7 linked regions of the Homo sapiens genome follow. The protein of the gene in region 2 interacts with the protein of the main gene of each other region in a pairwise test. Each region holds a gene or a part of one and is shown on either strand. Other genes may lie near its edges.

What was found.
Region 1: the proteins of CDC25A (region 2) and NAA11 interact in binary tests that used the Homo sapiens proteins (3 or more experiments, as listed by UniProt).
Region 3: the proteins of CDC25A (region 2) and SOX5 interact in a two-hybrid assay, tested with the Homo sapiens proteins (one large-scale study listed by BioGRID and IntAct).
Region 4: the proteins of CDC25A (region 2) and MTAP interact in a two-hybrid assay, tested with the Homo sapiens proteins (one large-scale study listed by BioGRID and IntAct).
Region 5: the proteins of CDC25A (region 2) and CUL3 interact in a two-hybrid assay, tested with the Homo sapiens proteins (one large-scale study listed by BioGRID and IntAct).
Region 6: the proteins of CDC25A (region 2) and DUSP8 interact in a two-hybrid assay, tested with the Homo sapiens proteins (one large-scale study listed by BioGRID and IntAct).
Region 7: the proteins of CDC25A (region 2) and CAMK1D interact in a two-hybrid assay, tested with the Homo sapiens proteins (one large-scale study listed by BioGRID and IntAct).

What each region holds. Positions count from the first base shown.
Region 1 is NC_000004.12:79,316,188-79,319,687, forward strand, and holds the end of NAA11 (N-alpha-acetyltransferase 11), read right to left. Parts: intron 1,605-3,500; 3' UTR 460-1,604; downstream 1-459.
Region 2 is NC_000003.12:48,181,918-48,185,417, forward strand, and holds part of CDC25A (M-phase inducer phosphatase 1), read right to left. Parts: intron 2,779-3,500; coding exon 2,736-2,778; intron 1,920-2,735; coding exon 1,883-1,919; intron 1,114-1,882; coding exon 1,012-1,113; intron 1-1,011. UniProt on the Homo sapiens protein: Tyrosine protein phosphatase which functions as a dosage-dependent inducer of mitotic progression. Directly dephosphorylates CDK1 and stimulates its kinase activity. Also dephosphorylates CDK2 in complex with cyclin-E, in vitro.
Region 3 is NC_000012.12:23,537,171-23,540,670, forward strand, and holds part of SOX5 (transcription factor SOX-5), read right to left. Parts: intron 1-3,500.
Region 4 is NC_000009.12:21,809,136-21,812,635, reverse strand, and holds part of MTAP (S-methyl-5'-thioadenosine phosphorylase), read right to left. Parts: intron 1,148-3,500; exon of another isoform or gene 274-1,147; intron 1-273. UniProt on the Homo sapiens protein: Catalyzes the reversible phosphorylation of S-methyl-5'-thioadenosine (MTA) to adenine and 5-methylthioribose-1-phosphate. Involved in the breakdown of MTA, a major by-product of polyamine biosynthesis.
Region 5 is NC_000002.12:224,501,864-224,505,363, forward strand, and holds part of CUL3 (cullin-3), read right to left. Parts: intron 1,960-3,500; coding exon 1,789-1,959; intron 1,210-1,788; coding exon 1,102-1,209; intron 1-1,101. UniProt on the Homo sapiens protein: Core component of multiple cullin-RING-based BCR (BTB-CUL3-RBX1) E3 ubiquitin-protein ligase complexes which mediate the ubiquitination and subsequent proteasomal degradation of target proteins.
Region 6 is NC_000011.10:1,565,772-1,569,271, forward strand, and holds part of DUSP8 (dual specificity protein phosphatase 8), read right to left. Parts: exon of another isoform or gene 2,178-3,500; intron 164-2,177; 5' UTR 56-163; coding exon 1-55. UniProt on the Homo sapiens protein: Has phosphatase activity with synthetic phosphatase substrates and negatively regulates mitogen-activated protein kinase activity, presumably by catalysing their dephosphorylation.
Region 7 is NC_000010.11:12,356,047-12,359,546, reverse strand, and holds part of CAMK1D (calcium/calmodulin-dependent protein kinase type 1D), read right to left. Parts: intron 1-3,500. UniProt on the Homo sapiens protein: Calcium/calmodulin-dependent protein kinase that operates in the calcium-triggered CaMKK-CaMK1 signaling cascade and, upon calcium influx, activates CREB-dependent gene transcription, regulates calcium-mediated granulocyte function and respiratory burst and promotes basal dendritic growth of hippocampal neurons.

The sequences.
Region 1 (3,500 bases), on a different chromosome or scaffold from region 2:
TAAGATTATGCTGCCCTAGAGACAGATGTTAGAAAGCTGTAATATTTAAAAATAAAGAGATAAACACATGGTTGAGAGGAAAGAATAAAATAATTTAGCGTTGAGATAGAATATTAAAAAGAAAAAAGGAAAAGATGGAAAGATAGATTTTATCATACTGTATTGGCACAAGAAATGGCAAATCCTTTCATGTAGGGAAAAACTTTTATATCTGCCTCAGGCAATCATTTACCATTAGGCAGACATTCTTAGAGTGCACTAGGGTAGATCTGTAAGAACTGCTTAGCAGGGCTAATTACGATTACACAGAAAAGACTTACCTCTTGTCACCAGATAAAGTCCAGGCTTTGACTTAAATCCATACACACCAGTTTTCATAAAAGTTTAAACATGAAAAATGTTATATACTTTGGTAATTCACATTCAGTGAACATAAAAACAACATTAAGTAATGATAACTCTGGATTTATCTGGTAACTTTTACTGCAGAGGTCAAGGTACTTTGTCTTCACTTATTTTTACTAGAGAAAAATAATAAAAATAGATTATAATTGTAGGTTATATAAATATTTACAATTGACATACAGTAGCCATGTATTAAGCAAACACATTTTTAAACAGCAGATTCTCCATTTTTGCTAAAATTTTAACACATTTATAAATAAAATGCAAAGAGTAGGAACAGAAAAGTAGAAGGAACTTTGGCTTTGAATTCAAACAGAATTGGGTTCAGATCCAGGATATTTAATTCACTTCTCTGAGCTTCAGTTTCCTCATCTGTAAAACAGGGATAATACTACCTACTTTACAGGGTTGCTGAGAGGGTTAAATATGTAACTAATGAAGGCTCCAGCATTGTGTGTGAACACTGCAGGTACTCAATAAATGCCAAGTGACATAATCACAAAAAAACTAACACAAACAAGCACATTAGAGATTCCAATTTAATTACCGTTTGTCCTTTTCTTAAAATCTCCAAGTTCTGATTGTACAGTAGAAGCTCCTAACTTAACACCTTTTCCCACTGGGAAGGTGATGCCCTCCTCCTCAAAAAAAAGGGAGGGGGGAATAGTATAAAGGAGGAGTTACCAGAGAAAGGAAAAGGAAACTGAATACTTCTTCCAGGAAAGAGGAGGAAGAGGGCATGAGGTCTGACTTCATGGTCCTGACTACTTCACCTCCTCAAGGATGAAAACTCAGGTAAATAATGGTTAAAAAACAAAAACAAAAACTGAAAGCTGGAAATCTTCAAGAGTTTGCCCTGCTTCCTGTTCATCATTCTAAAAGGAGAAAAACTTGCAGGATAACCACACCCAACAGAGGACTACTACAAACAGAATAAAATGGCAGCGTAGTGTGAGTAGGCCAAGAAAGGTTCTGTAATGGCAGGTCTCAAAGTTCCTTGGCTGTTGTGCAGTGGCTCTTGTGTCCAGGTATTCCTTCATGATCCCAGCAGGATATGTGAAAGGTGGTTGTTTATAGAGTTAAGAGTGAGAAGCCATTCTGGTCACTGTGAGATGATCCCCACAGCAGATGCTGCAGAGCAGACAGACTAAGCCAGGGTTCACAGAGTAGATGTGGTTGAGACATGAGGACCTGAAATGCTGTTGAAAAATGAGAAGAAAACAAATGAGAAAGGGAGAGCTATAAGCTCTGACAGCTCTGAAAGAATACTGGTTTAGTTAATGATAGACTGGAACAGCAGATAAAGAAACCCAGTAACTAGTTTGGACTAGATATATCTCCATGGCAGTCAGTGAGAATTCAGATGACTGCACAAAGACCACACACAGATCTGGGGCTCTCTCCCCTCCCTGCCATAAGAACACATGAACCTTTCCTGACATCTAAAGGACATTTCTGCCAGGAGAAAGGGACAGGAAGAACACCAAAAAACTGGGATTTACCCCCAAAGAACCTATTTTAAAACTAAAGAAACTGAGATCATTTTGCTTGTCATCTTTAAATTCTATCTCATCCTACTCCACTCAAAAGAAAATTTATTCCAATTCTAAAGAAATGAAAGGCCTTTTTAGCTCTTGATAAGTTAGATGCAATGTGTCCAACTCTATAAGTCATATTTTCTTTCTGAGGCCTGGACAGGAAACCAAAATAACCATAATGTTTCTTTATTCACAAATTAAAGTGCCCTAATTACATCAGGTAAGAGGAAGTAGGTAATTATATCAGGTAAGAGGAATCATACATACATTATTTTTCTCTCCTTTAAAAAAATTTATTATATGGGTAATTTGAGAGGTCCATTCATTCATTCATTCAATAAATATTTACTCAGTACCTTTTCATCTATCATATGCACACAGAAGTAAATAAGATTGAGGCTGACTATTATGCACAGAGCAGTTAAAAAGCATTTTTGTACAAAATCATTGTTATAGAAAATTCTGTTGCCAGAATAACAAGTGAAGCCAGTTGTAAGAGGTAATACTATGTAAAATCTTATTTTTTAAAGTATATTTGCTATAACAAAAGAGACACAAGATATGGAGGAACAGGTCAGAAAGACTATCATCATTGCCTTTTTCATTTTTGCATGAACAGGCATGCAAAAGAAGTTATATAGCTGTTTTAGTTATCTCAGTAAATACTGCTTGAAAATTTTAAGAAATTAAACTGAAAAAGTCAAATAACACTGTAATAAAGGCTATAGGATAGTTTGTTGTTTAAGAGTATAGGTATTTTTCATAAAGATTCCCTTTAAAATGTTAGTATTATAGTCCTTTTTTTGAGACAGGGTCTTGCTCTGTCACCCAGACTGGAGCACAGTGGTACAATCATGGCTCACAAGAGCCTCAAACTCCTGGGCACAAGTGATCCTCCAGCCTCAGCCTCCTGAGTAGCTAGGACTACAAGCACGCACCAGTATACACCACCACGCTGGCTAATGTTTTTTAGTTTTTGTAGAGACTAGGTCTTGCTATGTTTTCAAGGCTGGTCTTGAACTCCTGGCCTCATGCAAAGCTCCCGCCTTGGCCTCCTAAAGTGCTGGGATTACAGGCATGAGCCGCTGTGCCCACCCCAAGCCCTTAATGTCTTGCTTATTAAGTTCAAAGTTTTACATTATCAGGTTTTCTTAAAGGTGGGCTATGGAAGCCTGACAAATACATGCTATTTGTCGATATGGTGTTATAAACATGAAACAGAATACTATGGCTTTACTTTAAAAAAAAATCCTATAATTTTCCAAAGATATTTATCTATAGAAATGGCATTGTAGAATATTTTCAGAAAGGCTTTTATGGTGGCTCTTTGAATCATTGCCCATTCAAAGAATTTTAAATATTCTATCTAACCTCCTGTACCATAAAGCCCATTGGATTTCATATACTAGAGCATAGAGTACAAAATTTAGGAAAAACCTCTGCTTTTATCAGTTACTTCTGACAAAGTTGGTATTTCAGTCATCCTACATGTACATCATACACTGATTGAAAGGTGACATTGTTAGAGATTATAAATAATTCAACAAATGGCATCTA
Region 2 (3,500 bases):
GAGAAAACTAGACCTTGCAGGTTAAGGAATGTGCCCAAAATATTGAAGTAAAACAGGACAACTCCAGAGTGAGAGCTCTTTAACCACCATCTATGCTGTTTTCCCTTTAAAACAAAGCTCCAGGCAAGCAACCCTGAGAAGCTATTTCGGGGGAAAACCAGGCATCAGTACAGCTTTGCCCTGGTAAAAAGCACTAGAGGCTGATACACTGTTCCAAGCACTCAAGGCTGGAACTCATTTCCATATTCTTTCTCATGACACTTCCCAGGTTGATAAAGAAATCATCAGGAGAGTTCATGGAGGCAGTGGGTTTCACACTAAACCTGAAGATTGTAAGGACAAGGATTATGAACTGTGGCATTTCAGCAGGAATGGAAAAGGGGAGAAAGTAAATATATAGAAATACAGTAGAGAGAAGGCTGAAAAAATTACAACTGTTTTGGATGCCTACTCTGTGCAATGTCTAAAAGAACAAAAAAGCCAGGCTCATTCAGGGTAGATAACCAGAAATTCACCTTCCAAGCCACCATTTCAGTTACTCTGAGATTCCCTAGAACTTGTTGACCCCGTTCTTACAAATACTGCCAAAGAGCCTTTTCCTAAGCTTACAATTCATTTCAGGGTCAGAGCAAAGAGGCAAGGACAGCCTGGGCAGAGCCTTCCAGACAAACACTATTTGTACATGTAATTACTCCTGTGAGCTACAATCTGAGCAACTCCCGCCTGTCAGGCACCATTTTCAATACTTCATACATAATCTTACTTATTGCCACAACATCCCTAAAAGGTATTACTACTCCTATTTTACAAAAGAGCAAAGATTAAAAAGAGAAGAATTTGCCAACATCACACAGCTAGTAAGCAGGATCCAAACCCAGAATTCTCTGACTCCAAAGACCGCACATAATGGCCAAGTTTAGTCTCCCAGAAAGCAGCCCAGCCACTTCTAAGCCACTGACAGCCTGTGGGTTTCACCTCTGCCTCAGGTTAGTACATTGAAGTCACACTCACATTTTCCTTGTTCTCATCTGGGTCGATGAGCTGAAAGATGTCATGGTCAAGAGAATCAGAATGGCTCCTCTTCAGAGCTGGACTACATCCCAACAGCTTCTGCTATCAAAGTAAAAAAGGAAAATAATTAAGGCACACAAATAAAATTTCAGTGGAAAATTCAGTTCTCAAAAGAAAAAAAAGGGGGGTTGAATAGGGGGTAGACTAGCTCCTCACACACTGCAGTAGGTAACCAGTAAATGTGGCCAGGAATCCACCTTGCCAGGACACAGCCAGGACACAGCATAGAAGTTTCCATTCCATGGGTTTACAGCTAACCTCACAAGGTCTACAGTGCCCCCCTCAACAGGGATTACAGTGCCAAATCAATCCCCAAATAACATTTGCATCAAAAGAACCCTTCCTGGTTTAATAAAGCTCTGTTAGAGATGGAGGACAAATTCCTCCAGACCGAACATCTTGAGTACTTATGAGACTAAGGAAAGGCTGGGAATAGTGGCTCTTGCCTATAATCCTAGCACTTTGGGAGGCCGAGGCAGGAGTTTGAAACCAGCCTGGGCAACAGAGTGAGACCCCCATGTCTACAAAAAATACAAAAATCAGCCGGGTGTGATGGTGTGCACCTATATATAGTCCCAGCTCCTCTGGAAGTTGAGGTGGGAGGATCACTTGAGCCAGGGAAGCAGAGGTTGCAGTGAGCCAAGATTTTGCCACTGCACTCCAGCCTGGGTGACAGAGCAAGACCTTGTCTCAAAAGAGACTAAAGAAAAGCAGTTTTTACTCTCTAAATTAAGTCTCCTATCAAGGTCATGCTGGTAGCTAAGGAACAGATAACAGGTATTAGCTCAAAATAAACAAGGAACTAACTTACAGGTAGGGAATGTATTCTTCTCATAGGATTTTCAAGGCTGTAATGAGATCAGAAGGTAAATAATGAGAATAAAACAAGTAAAGAGGTATTCATATTAGCAGAGAGATAGTGTTTAGCCTGTAGCTTGGGGGTACAGTCACAGACTCCCATTTTAGGCAAGAGATGGGAGAATAAATTTCTGAAGCTGTCCTGTTCTCAGGAGCACCCCCAACACTAGACTTCTAGGTGAAAAAAAACAAACCCATGTCTTTTCTTAAAATACACACATTCGGCTGGGCGCGGTGGCTCACACATGTAATCCCAGCACTATGGGCACTATGGGAGGCCGAGGAGGGTATATCACGAGGTCAGGAGTCTCGAACTCCTGGCCTGGCCAACACGATGAAACCTCGTGTCTACTAAAAATACAAAAATTAACCGGGTGTGGTGGTGCACTCCTGTAGTCCCAGCTACTCGGGAGGCTGAGGCAGGAGAATCAGTTGAACCTGGGAGGTGGAGGTTGCAGTGAGCCACTGCACTCTAGCCTGGGCGGCAGAGTGAGACTCTGCCTCAGAAACAAACAAACAAACAAACAAAAAAACCCCACATGTTCTTGTAAGGCTATGATGTCAGAGCACAGAGTAAGGGTTTGGGTAAGACCCAAACAGAACACCAAAATTATAGCTAAAATAAAGGAGAAAAAGTTCTGAAAATTGCTGACACAAACTATTCATTCTTGAGATTCCAGAGTGTTTCTAGGCACAGGTAAATCCAGGGCTCCAGTCCAGTGTATGAAGAACTTCATTTAAATAAGGTATTTAAGTTTAGACACGTTTTTTCTACATATAAACATTTGAAAGCAGTGAATACATACTTTTCTTTACTGTCCAATGGCCCAGGAGAATCTAGACAGAAACCTATGGGGAAAAAAAAAACCTCTCAAGAAATAATACAAAAAACACCATTTTGTCATTAAAATTAAAACACTAAACAAAGTACCTGGGTCTTTATTTAAGTCAGGCAACAAATATTCATGGCTTGTACTTTTGCCAGAATTGATGTTACGTCTATTAGATTGTCAAAAATGTCATGTTTGTACAAGTCTTAATATTTTCATAGCGTATTTACTGTTTTTTCTCCTATTTGCAAATAACATCAAGGGAAATAGGATTTGAGAAGAGGGTGAATAAAACTGATTCATATCATGATTGTTTGGTTATTCAGATAGAGGTGACCCAGATAACTTTCTGTGAGTTCCAACCATAGAAACAATAGGTACCAGATTTTCTTGGCATAGTTTTTAAACGTTTTACCTTGTCAAATCATATGAGGCTTGAAAAATACAACTACTGACCAGGCACAGTGGCTCACACCTGTGATTCCAATACTTTGGGAGGCTGAGGCAGGCTGATGGCTTGAGGCCACAAGTTCAAAACAAGCCTGGGGCAACATAGTGAGACTTGACTCTACCAAAGTTAAAAAAAAAATTAGTTGGGTGTGGTGGCACGTGTCTGTAGTCCCAGCTACTTGGGGAGGCTGGAGTGGGAGGTTCGCTTGAGCTCGGAAAGTTGAAGCTACAGTGAACCCTGATTGTGCCACTGTACACCAGCCTGAGACCTGGAAAACAGAGCAAGACCCT
Region 3 (3,500 bases), on a different chromosome or scaffold from region 2:
ATTCCTTTGATTAAACATTTAATTATAATTAAAATTATAATATTAATAAACATGGAGTGGGTAACTACTATGTGCCAGACACTGTGCTGAAACCTTGACATACTGATGTCTTTTTCCTACCTTTCACCTCAATCTTATAAAAGAGACAGCATTTCTATCTATTTTCATAGATGAGAAAATTGAGATTCAAATAGATGGACTAACTTAGCCAGGGTCATAATTACTGAAGTACAGATCTGTGACTCAAACTCAGATTTGATATAACTTAAATTGTGCTATAATGTATGCCCTTTCCTACATATGGCCACCTACTATACAAAATATAGCAGAGGTCACAATTACTGTAAATGCGTATTACGATTTTCTCTTAATAAATCAATTTCAATAACATACAAAGACGTCACTTCCCATGATACAGTCTGCTTTAGTAATAATAACCCAAATTGTTTTCCCCCTTTCTTTTCACTATTAATTTTGGTGTGAATTTAGCTGGGATTAAAAAAGACAAGTTTGAAGCTTAAATAAAAATAGTTTATGCTAATTCACATTTTAGATATGGTTTAAAACTTGGATTCTGTCAGTATGGCTATGTGTAATAGAAGTGGTAATGTGTCCGGAATTGGTGGGTTCTTGATCTCACTGACTTCAAGAATGAAGCTGCGGACCCTCGCGGTGAGTGTTACAGTTCTCAAAGGCGGTGTGTCCGGAGTTTGTTCCTTCTGATGTTCGGATTGAGAGGTGACAGCGTGCTGGCAGCCCTCAGTAGTAATAGCGTTTTTTTTTTTTTAATAGTGATTTAAAAATCTATTTGCAGATGAAGTGTGTTTATCTGCAAATAGTCATCTCAACTCAACGCGAATGCACAAAGACCGATAAACTGGAACTAGGATATCCCTACCAAATGGCCTTATACCTGCCTTCAAATGTCATCTAAGTAAGATCTTAGAATCTTTCGAATGAGTTCATTACTCACCCGTAACTCCCTATCTTAAATGCAAATAGCTCACTGTTGAATAGTTCTTCCTTACACATGTAAAGAGTTCCTCAATATGGGCTGTTACATTTATTAAAGCATACAGTGAAAGAGGCAATATCTCTTCCCTTAGAAATGTTACCATTGGAAGAGATATTGTATTGCATAGGTATAAATATAGATTTTTCCAAATCTAGAAAGCCAATGTGAATTTATTCTATTTACAGTATAAACTCAGGTTACAGTGCAAATAATAGAGTTTCTTTTTCTATTCCTTTCGTAAACTTCTGTTTAAATAGCATCATCCAACATTAGGTTGGTTGGTCAAGCCATATCATTTGTAGGGACAATCTCAAACTCCTTGTTGGCCCAGCATTATTCTCTGAAGATACTTGAATACCATTATGTTATTCTCAGGGCCTATATAAACACAGATATGGTTATGATCCTATTGAACTAGAACAACCGTTTTCATTGAGTTTCTTCCAAGCATTTATACCAGTTTTTTGAACTTCAGATCAGGGAGTGGAAAGTGAGCTTACCATAAATAACTCACAAATAGGAATACACTGATAAATGGATCAAGGATGGTTGATCTAATATAAAATTTATTAGCTAGCTTTATCCCAAAATTCGAAAACGAAACCAGCATTTTCTTTTTTTTTTTTTTTTTTTGAGACAGAGTCTTGCTCTTTCGCCCAGGCTGGAATGCAGTGGTGTGATCTCGGCTCACTGCAAGCTCCACCTCCCGGATTCACGCCATTCTCCTGCCTCAGCCTCCCGAGTAGCTGGGACTACAGGCGCCCGCCACCACGCCCGGCTAGCTTTTTTTTTTGTATTTTTAGTGGAGATGGGGTTTCACCGTGTTAGCCAGGATGGTGTCAATCTCCTGATCTCGTGATCTGCCCGGTTCGGCCTCCCAAAGTGCCGGGATTACAGGTGTGAGCCACCACTCCTGGCCAAGCATTTTCAATTAGAAGGGGAATTGCCAAAGATTCTTCCCTAAGTTTAAATGATCTATACGCCAAAAGGCTTTGGCCTCTCAAAGGAAAGAAAATGTTTATGCTTAGAAGTAATCTGCCTTGGAATGCGAGAGCTGTTTGTTTGTATATTTCCTACTATGTACATAATGTTGCATTCATTCCTTAATAAATATATAGTAGTGAGTGAATACAGAAAGTTATAGTTCCTGTCTCTTTGCAGCTTATATTCAGTCAGGGAATATACATTAAATATCTAATTACAAAATTTATTATTTTCCTTATAGTTGTAGAAAGTACAGGAAGGTAAGAGAATATGATGAGGCAAGATCAATCCTCTGCAGGTCAGGAAGGCTTTGCTGTAGAAATGACTCCCGTGGGGCTCACAAAGAGAAGAGCATCCTATTGAGGAAGAATATAATAGTTGAGGTCTTTCGGTGGAAAGAGGAGTTAGACTAACTTAAAGAAAGCTGGTCTGGCTTAAAAAAAAAAAAAAAGAGGAAAAAAAGATGCGTGTATGTAAAGAAATGGGATAATAAAAGATGTGTAAATTCTCAGATAAGTTGGCTTCCAAATCTGGCATGAACGGGAATTATAAAATAGTTTAACTCTTGATAGTATAATTTCTTTGAGAGTATCACTGAATCCTAAATTACACTTTAAAATATGGCCATATAATAATTCCAAGTCTTTTCAAAACTAAGAATAAAGATAGGCTAAGTACTAACCGGGTCAAATGGCTGACTGACTACTATATTTTATGACAGTACAGGGCAGTGTTTCCATTTGGTGGTAAATCCAGTTTTCATTTTCAAAATAGTAACCTTGAATTAGCTTAACCAACTGACAAGTTTGGTTTTGATTTCAATGGCTTTGCAGGTACTATAACCATTGTATGCAGCTGAGGTGTTAACTAACCCCTGAAACATACTTGATGAGAATGGCAGGAAAATATTTTGGATAAACAACAATAAAAAAAAAAAAAGAGAGAAAAAATATCTACTTGATTTGGGGGTGGCTGGCTGCTTACTCTGGACTGATGTACAGGGAGTTTATTCATTCCCTGCTGCTTTCAAAAGGTTGTCGTTTTAGAATAAAAAAGCAGAGAAGGAGGGATAGCATTAGGAGATATACCTAACGCTAAATGACGAGTTAATGGGTACAGCACACCAGCATGGCACATGTATACATATGTAACTAACCTGCACATGGTGGACATGTACCCTAAAACTTAAAGTATAATAATAATAATAATAATAATAATAATAATAATAATAATAAAAAGCAGAGAAGGACAATTGGGTTTTCCTCCTGATGACAAAAGAGGAAGTTTCAATCAAAAGTATTTGATGCTCAAAATAGGGGAAAAAATAAGGTCCAACGATTATTCCTTTCCTTTCTAAATCTGGCAATACACTGAAAGTGAAGAGTTTGCGCTGGGCAACATTGTCATCTCCGTGGGGTCTGTAGTGAATTTGCACATTTTACTCCAACTAAACTACTGTATATCTAATCAGAAAAAGATGTCCCTCTTCCCCTGATCTAGC
Region 4 (3,500 bases), on a different chromosome or scaffold from region 2:
CTTAATGACCTCATCCACCCTCAGGAAACAATGACAAGACCTTGCCAGGCCTCCTGGGCAGGAAGCGTCAGTCCTCAGTCCAGTTAATTCTAGACTGTGTAGGAAATGTGTTCAAGACCTGAGATGGAATTTCTGCCCAGCCAGGACTTCTTTATTACACAAGATAGAGTTCTGAAATAGGGAGTCAATCAAGGTCCTTGACAGATTTTAAAAGCTAGTGGCTCATGCCACACTTTTCCACGGACTGACCATCAAACCAAACTTCTCAAAACTAGACCTTCTGCAATGATAATAAATAAAGCTCTCTATGACATCTGCCTCAGAACCCTAAAGCTGCCCACACCTACCTACAGTGACTTGAACCACCTGGTGTCTGCAGCCATGAGTGGGGTCACCATCTGTCTGCATTTCCCTGGCCAACTCAATGCTGACTTGCAGAAGCTGGCCGCAAACATGGTCCTGTTCCCCCACCTGCACTTCATGTATGGCTTCCCCCTGCTGACCAGCTGGGACAACCAGCAGTACTGGGCCCTCATGGTGCGTGAGCCCACTTGGCAGTTCTTTGATGCCAAGAATATGATGGCTGCCTGCAACCTCTGCCATGGTTGCTACGTAATGGTAGCTGCCATGTTCAGGGGCCACATGTCCATGAAGGAGGTGGACATGCACATGCTTAATGCCCAAAATATGAACAGCAGCTACTTTGTTGGTTGGATCCCCCAAGATATAAAAACAGCTGTGTGTGACTTCCCACCCTCAGGGCTAAAGATGTCCGGCCACCTTCACTGGCAACAACACTGCTATCTAGGATCTGATCAAGGGCATCTCAGAGCAGTTCACAGGTATACTTCGGTGCAAAGCTTTCCTGTACTGGTACACGGGCGAGGGCATGGATGAGATGGAATTCACCGAGGCTGAAAGCAACATGAACGACCTGGTGTCTGAGTACCAGCAGTAGCAGGAGGCCACGGCTGAGGAGGAAGAGTTTGAGTGAGCCAAGGAGGAGGTAGGTGGCCTAGAGCCTTCTGTTACTGTGTAAAGGGTGGAAGTGGTGTGAACCCTTTATTCACGCACAATCTGTTCTATGACAGCCATGTCTTAGTGTATGTGCGCTTGCTGTTGTGTCTTGACATCACATGTTCTAAAGACACCCCAAAGAAAGCATTTTCACAGTGAAAAAAAAAATTTTTTTGTTCAAGAGCAAATCAATCCAAGGGTCTGACTTCTCTGAGACTGTGAAAGCATTTATCCAAATACCAGTTCACCTGGTCAGAACAGTTACTTCTAGCAATGTGGAAAGGGTGCATAGTAACCCCTACTCTGTCTATTTCTTCTAGTACCTGGCTACAGGAGATTTTACCAACCCTTCTTTGTCCCAGAAACCATTCACCATCACTTTGAGGCCTGGGCACACTGCCGTAAGGAACCCAGCACTCTATAATGGCATTTTCAAAATACCATCACCCCAAGCGGTTGAGACTAGCTCATGCCAGGGAGATGGGCTGCCTCTGAGTGCCTCAAGCTCACGATAAGGTAAGCGAGCCAGAGCTGGAGCTGGCACAGCCCGATCTGAGCACTGCAGTCCTTTAGCTCTGGTTGCCATAACAATTTTGGCAAGCACAGCAGACGGAGGCCCTCATTATTAGGCTGACATGGCTTTGAGGCCTGTCAGGGCCTTGCAAAATCCTGGAAGCCTAGCTGTATGAGAGGGAGCAACCAACTGTCTCAGGCTGTGAGGACTGTTAAAAACCTGCAATAGGGTCCACAGGGATAGCTGGGGTCTCCATCTCTGACAAGACACCCCCTCTGTAGGCCACCCTTGTAGGTAATGGTTATGGATGGAATTGTATCTCCCCTAAGTTCATAGGTTGAAGTTCCAACTCTCAGTACCTCAGAATGTGACTGTATTTGCCGTTTTTAAAGAGGTAATTCAGATCAAATGAGGTCACTGGGATGGGCCCTAATGCAGTATACCTCATGTTATGGTTTGAATGTGGTCATCTTCAAAACTCATGTTGAGGCTTGGTCCCCAAATATAGTGATGCTGGGAGGTAGTACCTTTAAGAGGAGTTTGAGTCATGAGCCATGGTAATAATCCACCCCAATTAAGGGATTCATGCAGTCCCAGGGGAGGGTGTTCTTGCTCTCATTGGGTTGGATTAGTTCCAGTGAGAGTGGGTTGTTATGAAGCAAAGTTTGTCTCTTTTTTGTTTCCTTTTCCTATCTCCCTCGTCTCCCTTTCATTTCTTTTAAATAAACCTCTTCTCTTTATAAATTACCCTGTCTCAGGTATTCTGTTATAGCAACAGAAAACAGACTAAGAAAACTGTTGTCCTTACAAGAGATTGGGATATAACCACATACAGAGGGAAGACCCTGTGAAGACAAATGGAGAACATTGCCATGTACAAGCCAAGCAGACTGACCTTACAAGAAATCCACCTTGATCTCACCTTGATCTTGGACTTCTAACCTCCAGCGCTGTGAGGAGATAATGCTTCTGTTGCATAAGCTACCCATTCTGTAGTGCTTTGTTATAGCAGGCCTAGCGAACTAATACAGTGACTCTATATTTTAGTCAGAGAAGCTTGGATGATGCAAGCGCTCAAAACATCCATGGTTTTTATTTGAGCAAATGCCCCTTGAGAAGTACAGATATCAGTCTAAAGGGCAGACACCCTCTTAAAGACACACTTCACCTGCTGAAATGGCCAGATATTTTTAGAGGAGGACTCTCCCTAATGCATACTTTGTTAGAGCTCTCCTTTGCCTGTGGAGCAACAGTGGGAGCCACCCACCCTCCTGAACCAGCTGCTGGATACTAGGACATTCCCCTTCTCTAGCTTTCAATACCAAAGCCCAGGCCTCAGGGATTCTGATTAGTTGGGCAAGGCGTAGTTTGTTTTTAAAGCTCCGCAGGTGGTTCTAAAGTGCCCTCAGAACTAAGCAACCTGCTCTAGGGCCTAGACCATAAATTTCTTTCTTTTTTTTTTTTTTGAGACGGAGTCTCACTCTGTCGCCCAGGCTGGAGTGCAGTGGTGCGATCTCGGCTCACTGCAAGCTCCGCCTCCCAGTTTCACACCATTCTCCTGCCTTAGTCTCCCAAGTAGCTGGGATGACAGGAGGCTGCCACCGTGCCCGGCTAATTTTTTGTATTTTTAGTAGAGACGGGGTTTCACCATGTTAGCCAGGATGGTCTCAATCTTCGGATCTTGTGATCCGCCCGCCTCAGCCTCCCAAAGTGCTGGGATTACAGGCATGAGCCACCGCGCCCGGCCCCTAGACCATAAATTTTTAAAACGTGGGCTGAGTGTGGCAAGCTGAACAATGCCCCTGTCCCAAGAGATCCTAGCTACATCCTAATTCCCAGAACCTGGGAATGTTACCTCAAATATGATTAAATCCAGGATCTTGAGATGGGGAGATTATCCTAGATTACCTGGGTGGGACCTAAATGAAATCACAAGGAGGCAAGAAGGTCAAATGAGGAAGAAAGTGAT
Region 5 (3,500 bases), on a different chromosome or scaffold from region 2:
AGAAAAAAATTTAAAAACTTACTAGAGCAAACAAAAAAATACAAGAAAATATATCAATATATTAGATTTAACTATAAATTCCTAAACAATCTAAAAATAAAAATCCAGGATAATTACACCACTATTTCCTGTCCACCCGAAATTTCTGTCATGGACTTGCATCTTTCCTCCTCTCAGCTCTTCTCCACTGTAAACACTGATATTTATAAAGCAAATCATACAACTATTTACATTAGAGTCAGAATGTTTTCATAGAAATGAATGGTTATTCTACAGAATTACGTATTTTCACGTATCTGGTTTGCGAGACTATAAGGCCAGTAGAAGTGATGATCTCATATTTAGATACCAAAGGAAAAGACTCACAAATCTGTTAAATGGTTGTGACACATTTTAACCATAGAGTGGTACACGGTGATTTTAAAAATTTAAAAACTGTACAATTCTCTAAACTTAAGGTTAAGTTGAAAATCAGAGTAAAAAATGAAACTAAATTCTGAATTTCATTAAATGCTCATAAAACTCCCATCAGACTCCAAAGCTAAAGAAGTTCCAGCTCACCACCTTTGGGGAGTTATACCAAACACATTTATAATACATTAATTTCTGTGTTTTTATAGTCTCACTTCACCTGCTACGCACCCTTAGGATGTAAGTCCCATTTAAGCTAAACTTACAGAGGAGAATAATAGTAGTGAGGTATAGGAAGGTCAGGTGACTATCCCAAGATGACACAATCTTGGGGTAAAGTGAAAAGAAGAGTACTGAAACTCAGTAAACTTGTGTTAAGCCCAGTACTCTTTCCACAATTTATAATAGATTTGTATTATCTTTATTAACAACAGAATAATTCTCTTTATTAAATTGTCAGTGTATTCCTTCAAGTGGGAAGAAACAACTAAATTTTAAAAGAATAAAAAGTTTTAACATAAACACAGAATAAGAGGCAATGTGAAGGAAAATTAAGTACTCACAGATAAAACACATGTTGTCACTAATGACATTTAAAGAAACAACTGTCATCTGCTAAGTGGATGAAAATATACCCATTACAAAAGACTTTACATGAATATCTAAGTAGAAATTAACGCAGAATCTTACACCAGTTGCCTGTAGATGTTGCCTGAATTCATCCATCGTTGTGTTTGAGATGCTCATATCCCTAAACATTCCTTCCAGTTTTGACGTGAACTGACATCCACATTCAGTCTGTGGAGGAAAAACACAAATATACACAAATAAATGGTAGATGTTTCTATGAGAAAGTACAGAAAGAAATAAATTATTTCATGTTATTGCTATCCCTGATAATCTTCCTGTAAATTTTTCCAACAGTTGCTCTGTGCCTGTGGTTATCAAACTTTAGGATTTTAAAATGCAAATTCCCAGATTCTTTCAGAGATTCCAATATACCCCCATGAAAGGCAGGGCCCAGAACTGTTTTTAACTAGCATCTCAGGTGATTCACGTGCAAGTATTCTATGGACCACACTTTGTGAAAAAGAACTACACAGCATAGCCTCTTTATTGTTTCCCTTTTACTAATCCTCCCTTCCAGGCCTCCATGAATGTATCCTGACACACCAACAGAAATTCCAGCAAACTCTGAATGTCCCTGAACTTGAACAAATGTTAGTGTAGTCTGTGTTCTTCTCCAAAACAATCTACCTTTATTTCTAGAAATAAACACTTAATAATCTACCAAATTAATTTCCAATCACGTTGTCAGTACACAATCATAATAAACCTCAGTTAGGTGCACTCTATTTCATCTAAAACACACCTTACCTTTAACTTAGATATCATGTTTTTTTCAGAGTCATCAGAAACACTTTTATTTGTGAGAAGTCTCCTTGCCAAGTGTTGTTTATAATAACGTTCAAATACATCTTTTTCTTGCATAAACCTAAAAAGGACCATTGCTTTATCCAATATTGTTTCTACTTCTTGTTCTGTTAGCTGCAAAATTAAGATGATGTAACAATTATACAATTTTAGTTCTACAAAAGCAGTACTACGGTTCATTTACAGCTTAAAAACACTATTGTTTGAAAACATAGATATCTGGTTGACATACATCAAAAAAAGGGATACGGTTTGAGAAAGTGTCTCCTACTTCACACAGTAGCATCATTCTTACATTCTCATTTAGTGCATCATGAATGAGGGGTTGGAGTGGAATTCTATTCCGTAGAGGGCTACCACTGAATTGGAGGCATAAGGTAATATAGCGCTGGGTTAAGGGATGATTGAGAACAGATGAAATGAAATTTTAGTCACAGAGATTATTTTATGAAGCCTTTGCATATGCAGGCAAAAACTTACACAGCCAAAAGACGGAATTTTTCATTTAAGCTCACTGAAAGCCTCAACTGTGCAAACAAAAGGCAATAATTTGTTATAATCCAAACAGTAAAAAGGCCATTGCCCTTACTTTATTTTTTTATTTCTATTTTTTTTTTCTTTTGAGACGGAGTTTCACTCGTTGCCCAGGCTGGAGCGCAATGGCGCCATCTCGGCTCACCGCAACCTCTGCTTCCCGGGTTCAAGCAATTCTCCTGCCTCAGCCTCCCGAGTAGCTGGGATTAGACATGCACCACCACACCCGGCTAATTTTGTATTTTTAGTAGAGATGGGTTTCCTCCATATTGGTCAGGCTGGTCTTGAACTCCCAACCTCAGGTGATCCGCCGCCTTTGCCTCCCAAAGTGCTGGGATTACAAGCGTGAGCCACTGTGCCTGGCTGCCCTTACTTTTAAATAAGGGCAAAAGGATTCTGTGGCAGGTTGTATTAATATATTTGAAAAACGGAAGACCAAATGAATGCATAAATTAATAGACTTTTCTATTCTGTGCAACCTTAGTGATTTTGTTCCCTTATTGCAGCTACTGCCTGTAAAACCTGTGACGACATGTTGCTTTTCCCTTTGGTGTCACAAATTCCAAAATGAAGTCAAAAGAGACCAATTCAGATGTGAGCATGTTTTATGCTTCAGTTGATTTTCTATGCTGTCGTGAGCTCCTCAGGTTCCAGAGATATCATATATCACAAAGGCTTGAAATTGAGCTACACCAACCATTTTCTGAGATGAGATCTACTCTATCTATGCCTTAATATTCTTGGCATCCAATTATTGTTTGACATATAACCTTCAGAACCAGATGAGAGCAAACAACACTCTCTACTAGAAAGTTTTCTAGTTCTTTATCTTCAGCATGCCTAACTCTCAGTCATAAAAATGACTGTTTACCAACTACAGCTGTGTAGTTGTTCAGTTTTTTTTTTTTTTTTGAGACGGAGTTTCGCTATTGTTGCCCCAGCTGGAGTGCAGTGGCGTCATCTTGGCTCACTGCAACCTCCGCCTCCTGGGTTCAAGTGATTCTCCTGCCTCAGCCTCCTGAGTAGCTGGGATTACAGGCATCCACCACCATGCCCAGCTAATTTTGTATTTTTAGTAGAGATGGGGTTTCACCAAGTTGGTCAGGCTGGTCTCAAACTCC
Region 6 (3,500 bases), on a different chromosome or scaffold from region 2:
GGCTGGCCAGCTTCTTGGCATCCATCACCTTCCTCGGGAGCCGGTCCCCAGCCATGGTGGGGCAATGGGTGCTGGGGAGGGTGACCCCTGAAGTGAGGAGGGGCTGCTCCGACGGCCCAGGTGTGGCCTCGCGCTGGGAGTGACCTAGCACATGGTGCTGGACCTGCAGGGACAGGGGGATGGTCAGCAGTGCTGCGGGCCCCTGGGTGGCACCCAGAAGCTCCCCAGGACAGATCAGAGCTGGGAGCTGCGCCCACCAGGACACACCAACATGTGCCCGTGGGAACCCTTCTCCCTCTGGAGAGACCCCGTCCAGGTCACAAGGCCAGCTCTCAGCAGGATGCAACAAGGCAGAGGGGGGCAAATGGGCCCCACAGAGAAGGGTCTGAGGGCTGGAAGAGGCCAGGGGTCCTTCCTGTGGGCCCTGGGGTTCACGGACCCTTAGGCATTCCAGAACATTCCATCTCATCCCTGGGACACAGGCATCTCCCTGCTGTGACTTCTGCATCTTTTCCACCACAGGACCCCCAGCAAGTCGGGGTCTGGACTGCACCTCACCCTCCCACATGGTCAAGCTCTCTGCCCTCCTCCGGGCTTGCTGTCCTCACACCTGCCCCTCTCTCCCTAGCACAGCCCCAGGGAGTCCAATCCCTGGAGACTTGACTCCAGGGCAGCTCCGTAAGCCGATAATCCAGCCCCTGGTGGATGGTGGCCTTGGGGCTGCCTCCACTGGAGAGTGGGCTCCCGGGGGCAGCCGGATAGCAGGCGGGTGCGGGAGGGGCTCAGGCACAGAGGCACGGCTCCTTTGCCACTGCTGCCCTCCTGACCTGCAGGCTGAGGTTTAGTGTGCGCCACGTGCCTGCTGGGGGTGAGTGCCCAGCTCCTGCAGGGGCGTGTTGCACCCACACAGTGCCTCTCCCCTAGCGGAGCCTGGGGTCTAGGAGGCTCCTTCATGGGCTGATAGGGCCCAGGATGGGAGGGGCGGGGCAGCCCTGGGAGGAGGGTCAGTGTCGGGGACCCCGCAGGTGCCAGGCCCTCGGCATGGCCTGCAAAGGCCTCAGACTGCCGGGTGGGCAGGTGGAGTAGGGATGTCTGAGGATGGAGTCTCCGGAAGCCCCTCCTGCAGGCTTGATGACAAGCCTGTCACTGCCCCACTGCCGGGCCCCATCTCCCTGTCACCTGCCAGGACTGGCCTTCCTCTGGGTCCACTTTACACTCACAGCCCCTAGGAGGCGCATAGTGTTAAGGATGATGAGTTTGCTTTAACTATGGGGAAACCGAGGCTTGGGGCAGGGTTGGGACCTGGGTCACACCTGGGTCACACACAGATGGGCACTGGGTGTCCCTGCAATGCCATCTTCCCTGTGCCCCCACAGCTGCCAGGCAGTCAGGAAGTTTACTCCACCCAGCTCAGGACTGAGGGAAGGCTGGGAGATAGATGTACCCTGGGCCCTGCGCCCTGTGCAAAGCGGGCTACGGTGGGTAGCGGGCCCTCAGCAAGCCAGACCCCCAACCCACAGCCACAGGAGGCACTGGGGGGAGGCGCCCTGAGGACACCCATGCACTGCAAACAGCAGGCTGGGGACAGAGGCCACCACCGTTTCTGGACTCTCCAGGTCAGCTCCCAGGCCGGCGGGGGCCAGTGAGAGAGTTCACAGAGCAGCAGGTGCAAGGCTGGTGTGGACCTCGTCCCTGGCCCAGCCCCAACTCCACACTGAGGGGCAGGTCCCAGCTCCTCCCTGCCCAGGAGCCCCAGCCTCGCACTCACTCTCCTTCTCCAGACACTTCAAGCTTGGCCCCTGCCTGGCCCCTCCCGCCTCGACTGGGCCCAGGCTTCTGTGCATTCCCACCATCCCTCCTGTTGCCAGAGGCCAGGGAAACACCTGACTGTGGATGGGCAGCCTCAGCTGACCCCACGGCTGACACCAGGGATTGCAGTGGCACCTGGTCAGCAGGGCCTCAGGATCCCACTCAGATAACGTTCCTGGGCTGGTGCTCCAGCCTCCACCACAGGGTGGGGAACGAGGCCTGGGAGTCCTCTCCAGGGCCAGACCCAGCAAGTTCAACAGCAAAAGGGCCTGCTGCCTGCCTGCTGTGGAGGGTCTCTGCCTGCCAAGGGGGTCCCTGACTACCCACAGGGGGTCCTTGATGAGCTGTTTGTCCTTCCCGAGTTCTACCTGAGCCTTGCACAGGTGGTGAGAGGCGAGGGCCCAGATGTGTGGTTCTGGTGAGACAGCGGCTCCAGGTGCCCCGTAGGATACCCAAGGGTCCAGCTCAGAGACCCAGAACCCCGAGAAGGCTGCAGTGGCAGGGACACTTGGGCTGGGGGTCTTTTGAGGAGCTGCCCCGGCCTCAATGTCCTCATCCGTTAAGTGGGGGTGGATTCTCTCTCACTGAAAACAACAGAAGCAAATACCCCCCAGTGCAGGGAGGAGGGCAGGTGTGAGGAGAGGCCCTCGCCCTCTCTGCAGCCAGGGCCTAGCCTTCATGCAGCCCTGAGTCCTGACACTGCCATGAGAGACCTCGGTGCAGCCAGCCAGATCTGAGACCCAGAGGGAGGGGAGGGAGGAGGGCAAGTCCAGCTGCAGGGTGGTGGGCAGGGGCTGGAGGGGCGGGAGGACGGGTCCTGGCCTTTACCTGGCCCTGCTCTGCCTCCTAAGCAACGCTGAGCTGGAGCTGGGCCTATCACCCACAATAGTATTGTTATTTGCAGCCGAAGGGGATTCATTAGCAAGTTAGCACCTCCATCGTCACCATGGCAACAGCAGAGGTGCCAGGCAACCGCTGCTCCTGCGGCAGCCACCACCATGGAGCAGGCTCCTCTGCAGAGTGGGCACGCGCCCCTCCCTGCTCTCTCCTACCCACCCCAGCAGGTGCCCGGCAGTGCAGAGCCCAGTCCTCAGCCCCTCCGCTCCTCTGCCCTACCTGGTCCTAACCTTCCTTCCCACTCCAGGTACCTGCTGTGCCCAGCATGCTCCCTGCAGCTCGCCGGCTCCCCGCCCCCTCAGAGGCCTTCTCTGTACTGCGAAGGGCTGGCCGAGTGCCCCCTCCTGCAGGAAGCCTCTGTGCCATGCTGGCCTCTGGGAGAGCATCCTCACCCACAGGGTCTCCCTGGACCTACAGCTCCCAGGGGGACATGTTCCTCACCTCTGTCTCCCCAGATGCTAAGGATCGGGGCTCAGCTATGCCAGGGATGGGGCAGGTTGGGTGGGGTGGGGAGCAGAGACACTAAGGACAGTCTGGTGCAGATCAGTGGGGCCAGCACTGGCCATGTGGGAACAGAGGTAAGGAAATGTGGATGGTGTTGGTTCCATGCCTCTCCTTTCACGGCCCCACATGCCAAGCCCTCCTGAGTACCTGTGGCCCTGCTATTCCAGTGCCTAGGGGTTGGGGGGTGAGAGGCAGGGCTGGGGACAGGATGCCCCCTAGCACAGCCCCATACACCCTTTTCAAAAGTCTTTGAGCCCAGGAGGAAGCAGTTTCCAAGTCCAAAGTCAGAA
Region 7 (3,500 bases), on a different chromosome or scaffold from region 2:
GGTGCAGAGAAAAAAAAAAAAACCGAGAAGCTACCCAGGGGGAGGGCTGAGCCTGGGACACACAGCTAACTAGGTCACTCCAGCACCGGAGCTGGGCCAGAGGACGTTTCAGGCAGAGTCTTTTGCTTAATGCTAGCATTACATGAACTAATCACCCCTGTTGGGAGCAAATGTTGAATGGCTCAGCGGGCCTTCCAAATCTGTGGAAATGGCCTCTGAGGGGCAGGGATAAATGATAGAGAGCGGGCATTGACTGCACACACACCCACGTGCCACACACGGCTCTCAGTGGTTCCCGTGCACCCTCATTTCATCTTCACCACAAGCCTCACATTAGGTCCAAGTGTCATCCTGTTTTACAGATGAGGACATGAGGCTCAGAATGGTAAAATAATTGGCCCAAAGCCATACAGCTAGGAAGCTGTGGACCCAGGATTTCCACCCATATCCGTGTAACCTCCGAGCCTATGTTCTTAGCTACTCACTGTACCAGGAAGAACAACTGTGGATTGTTCTTCTCTGGCTGACTGAAGAATTGTTTATGATTGCTGAAACCATAAATTTTGGGGGAGGTTAAATATGCACCATCCTGCCTATTTGCAACAAGAGCTTCCAAAAAATCAATTTCCAACAGATACTGACGTGTTCTTCCCCAATGGAACCTGCCCCAAATGTCCAAGGGAAGCCAACCTCAGCTGCTGGAGGTAACTACAGCTTGATGACAGTTACTGTATATTCAATCCCAGTTATGTGCCAGGTACCTCACATATGTCACTGAATCCTTACAACAATCCCACAAGGCAGCAACTCCTATCTCCCTCTTAAACTCAGAGAGATTAAGGAATCTATCCAGAGGCATTCAGCTATGAATGCCTGCACCAGAACGATCTTTCTGTTATGTTACGTTGCCTCCTTTACCCGGCCTCAGCAAATATACCCTATCAAAGGCTTGCTCTCAAGGTTCAGTGTTCACCAGGAGACAGAATCCCCCATTTCTTTTTTCTTTTATTTTTTGAGACAGAGTCTCACTCTGTCGCCCAAGCTGGAGTGGAGTGGCACAATCTCGGCCCACTGCAACCTTCGCCTCCCAGGCTCAAGCGTTTCTCACGCCTCAGCCTCCCGAGTAGCTGGGATTACAGGCATGCAACACCATGCCGGCTAATTTTGGTGTTTTTAGTAGAGACGGGGTTTTACCATGTTGGCCAGGTGTTGAACTCCTGACCTCAGGTGATCCACTCGCCTCAGCCTCCCAAAGTGCTATGATTACAGGCATGAGCCACTGTACTGGGTCCCTCATTTCTTTTTTCTTTTCTTTCTCTATGGGGACACGGTCTCTCTCTGTCACCCAGGCTGGGGTGTAGTGGTACCATCATAGCTCACTGCAGCCTCAACCTCCCAGCCTCAAGTGATCCTTCTGCCTCATTCTCCCAAAGTGCTGGGATTACAGTTGTGAGCCAGCACTCCAGGCTGGAATCTCTCCATTTCTAAGTCCTGCTGAAAGATTTGGAAAAACAGCACAAGACACAGAGAACAGATAGCTGAAGATATAAAATGAACTTGGTCTGTGGCGGAATGAACTTGACCTACGGCATGTATTTGGAGGTGACCTTTGATCTAACTGGAGCCTGAATAATCAATACACTGCATAATAAACCAAAAAAAAAGAAAAGAAAAGAAAATCAAGTGAGATCTAATAAAAAACTACCCCGGAGAAAAAGAAATCTCCCTCACCACAGAAAGTCAAAGGGGCATAGCCAACGTGAACCGAGATCAGGCTGGAATCTTTCCCGGAGTCCACGTGTCCTCCTGCACTAAATAAGCACGGAATTGACCATCTTGCATCAGGAAAATAACGTGGGTCCGCTGACTCGGGCACCAGCTTCATGGTGGCTGCCTATAAGCAGTTCCTTCATTAATTAAAGAAACATAATGGCCGAGTGCAGTGGCTCATGCCTGTAATCCCACCACTTTGTGAGGCTGAGGTGAGCAGATCACTTGGCGTCAGAAGTTTTAGACCAGCCTGGGCAACACGTTGAAACATAATCTCTACCAAAAATACAAAAATTAGCTGGGCGTGGTAGTACGCGCCTGTAGTCCTACCTACTCGGGAGGCTGAGGCAGGAGAATCACTTGAACCCGGGAGGCGGAGGTTGCAGTGAGCCAAGATCACGCCACTGCACTCCAGGCTGGGTGACAGAGTGAGACTCCGTCTCAAAAAAAAAAAGCAAACACCTGTAATCCCAGCTACTCAGGAGGCTGAGGCAGGAGAATCGCTTGAACTCGGGTGGCAGAGGTTGCAGTGAGCCGAGACTGGACCACTGCGCTCCAGCCTGGGCGACAGAGCAAGACTCTGTCTCAGAAAATAAAATAAAAACTTAAAAAGTAAAAAAAGAAAACATATCCCCGGTGGGCAAGTTGACCAGTAATGTGACAAATCTCCGCTGGACCCATGCCTAAGCCCTCCCAGAGGAGAGAGGAGGAGAAGCAGGAGGAGAGAGATTGAAGGGGATTTAAGGAGATTTATTTGGGGAAAGGAAAGATTAAAGAGATTTACAGAGACCCAGCCAAAGGAAAACTCAACAAGTTAACCCTTGAAATCCTCCCCTGAGAGCACACAAATCTCCACCTGGCACCAGCAAACCTAATTACTGTCCATTCAGTGGCCAAGTTCGAACCAGAAATTTGTACTTGAGACACAGTCATCATTAGCTTCTCTGGGAACAAGCTCTACCCAAACTCCCACTTCCCAAATCTCATTTTACTAATCAATAAGGACACTGAAGTTTGTTATCTTCACCTTTTCTTTTTTTTTTTTTTTTTTTTTTGAAATGGAGTCTCACTGTGTCACCCAGGCTGGAGTGCAGTGGCACAATCTCAGCTCACTGCAATCTCCACCTCCAGCATTCAAGCGATTCTCCTGCCTCGGCCTCCGGAGTAGCTGGGACTACAGGTGCACAGCACCACACCCAGCTAATTTTCTGTATTTTTAGTAGAGACGAGGTTTCACCACGTTGGCCAGGCTGCTCTCGAACTCCTGACCTCAAAAGAGGAGGTACCTCAAAGTCCCTCTGAGAATTTCACCTTCAAATTCAGAAATCCCTCCCCAGGGGAGCCCAGAAGCCCAAGGCTGTGTGCTTGCCCGTTTCCAGAGCCTCCCAGCACACGGGCACCCATAATGTGTAGACAGAGCAGGTGCTCCGAGAATTCCTGGGGAAACTGAACAAAACCACCAAATGAACTGTTCGTCCAAGCCCAGGTCCTTGGGGAATCTCACACCCCACATCCAGTCCACCAGCAATTCCTACCAGCTCCACCTTTAAAACACATCCGGAATTCGGCCAGGTGAGGTGGCTCACGCCTGTAATCCCAGCACTTTGGGAGGTGGGGGCGGGCAGATTTTTTTTTTTTTCTTTTTGAGACGGAGTCTCACTCTGTCGCCCAGGCTGGAGTGCAGTGGTGCAATCTCGGCTCACTGCAAAATCCCAGGCAGGCTCCCACAT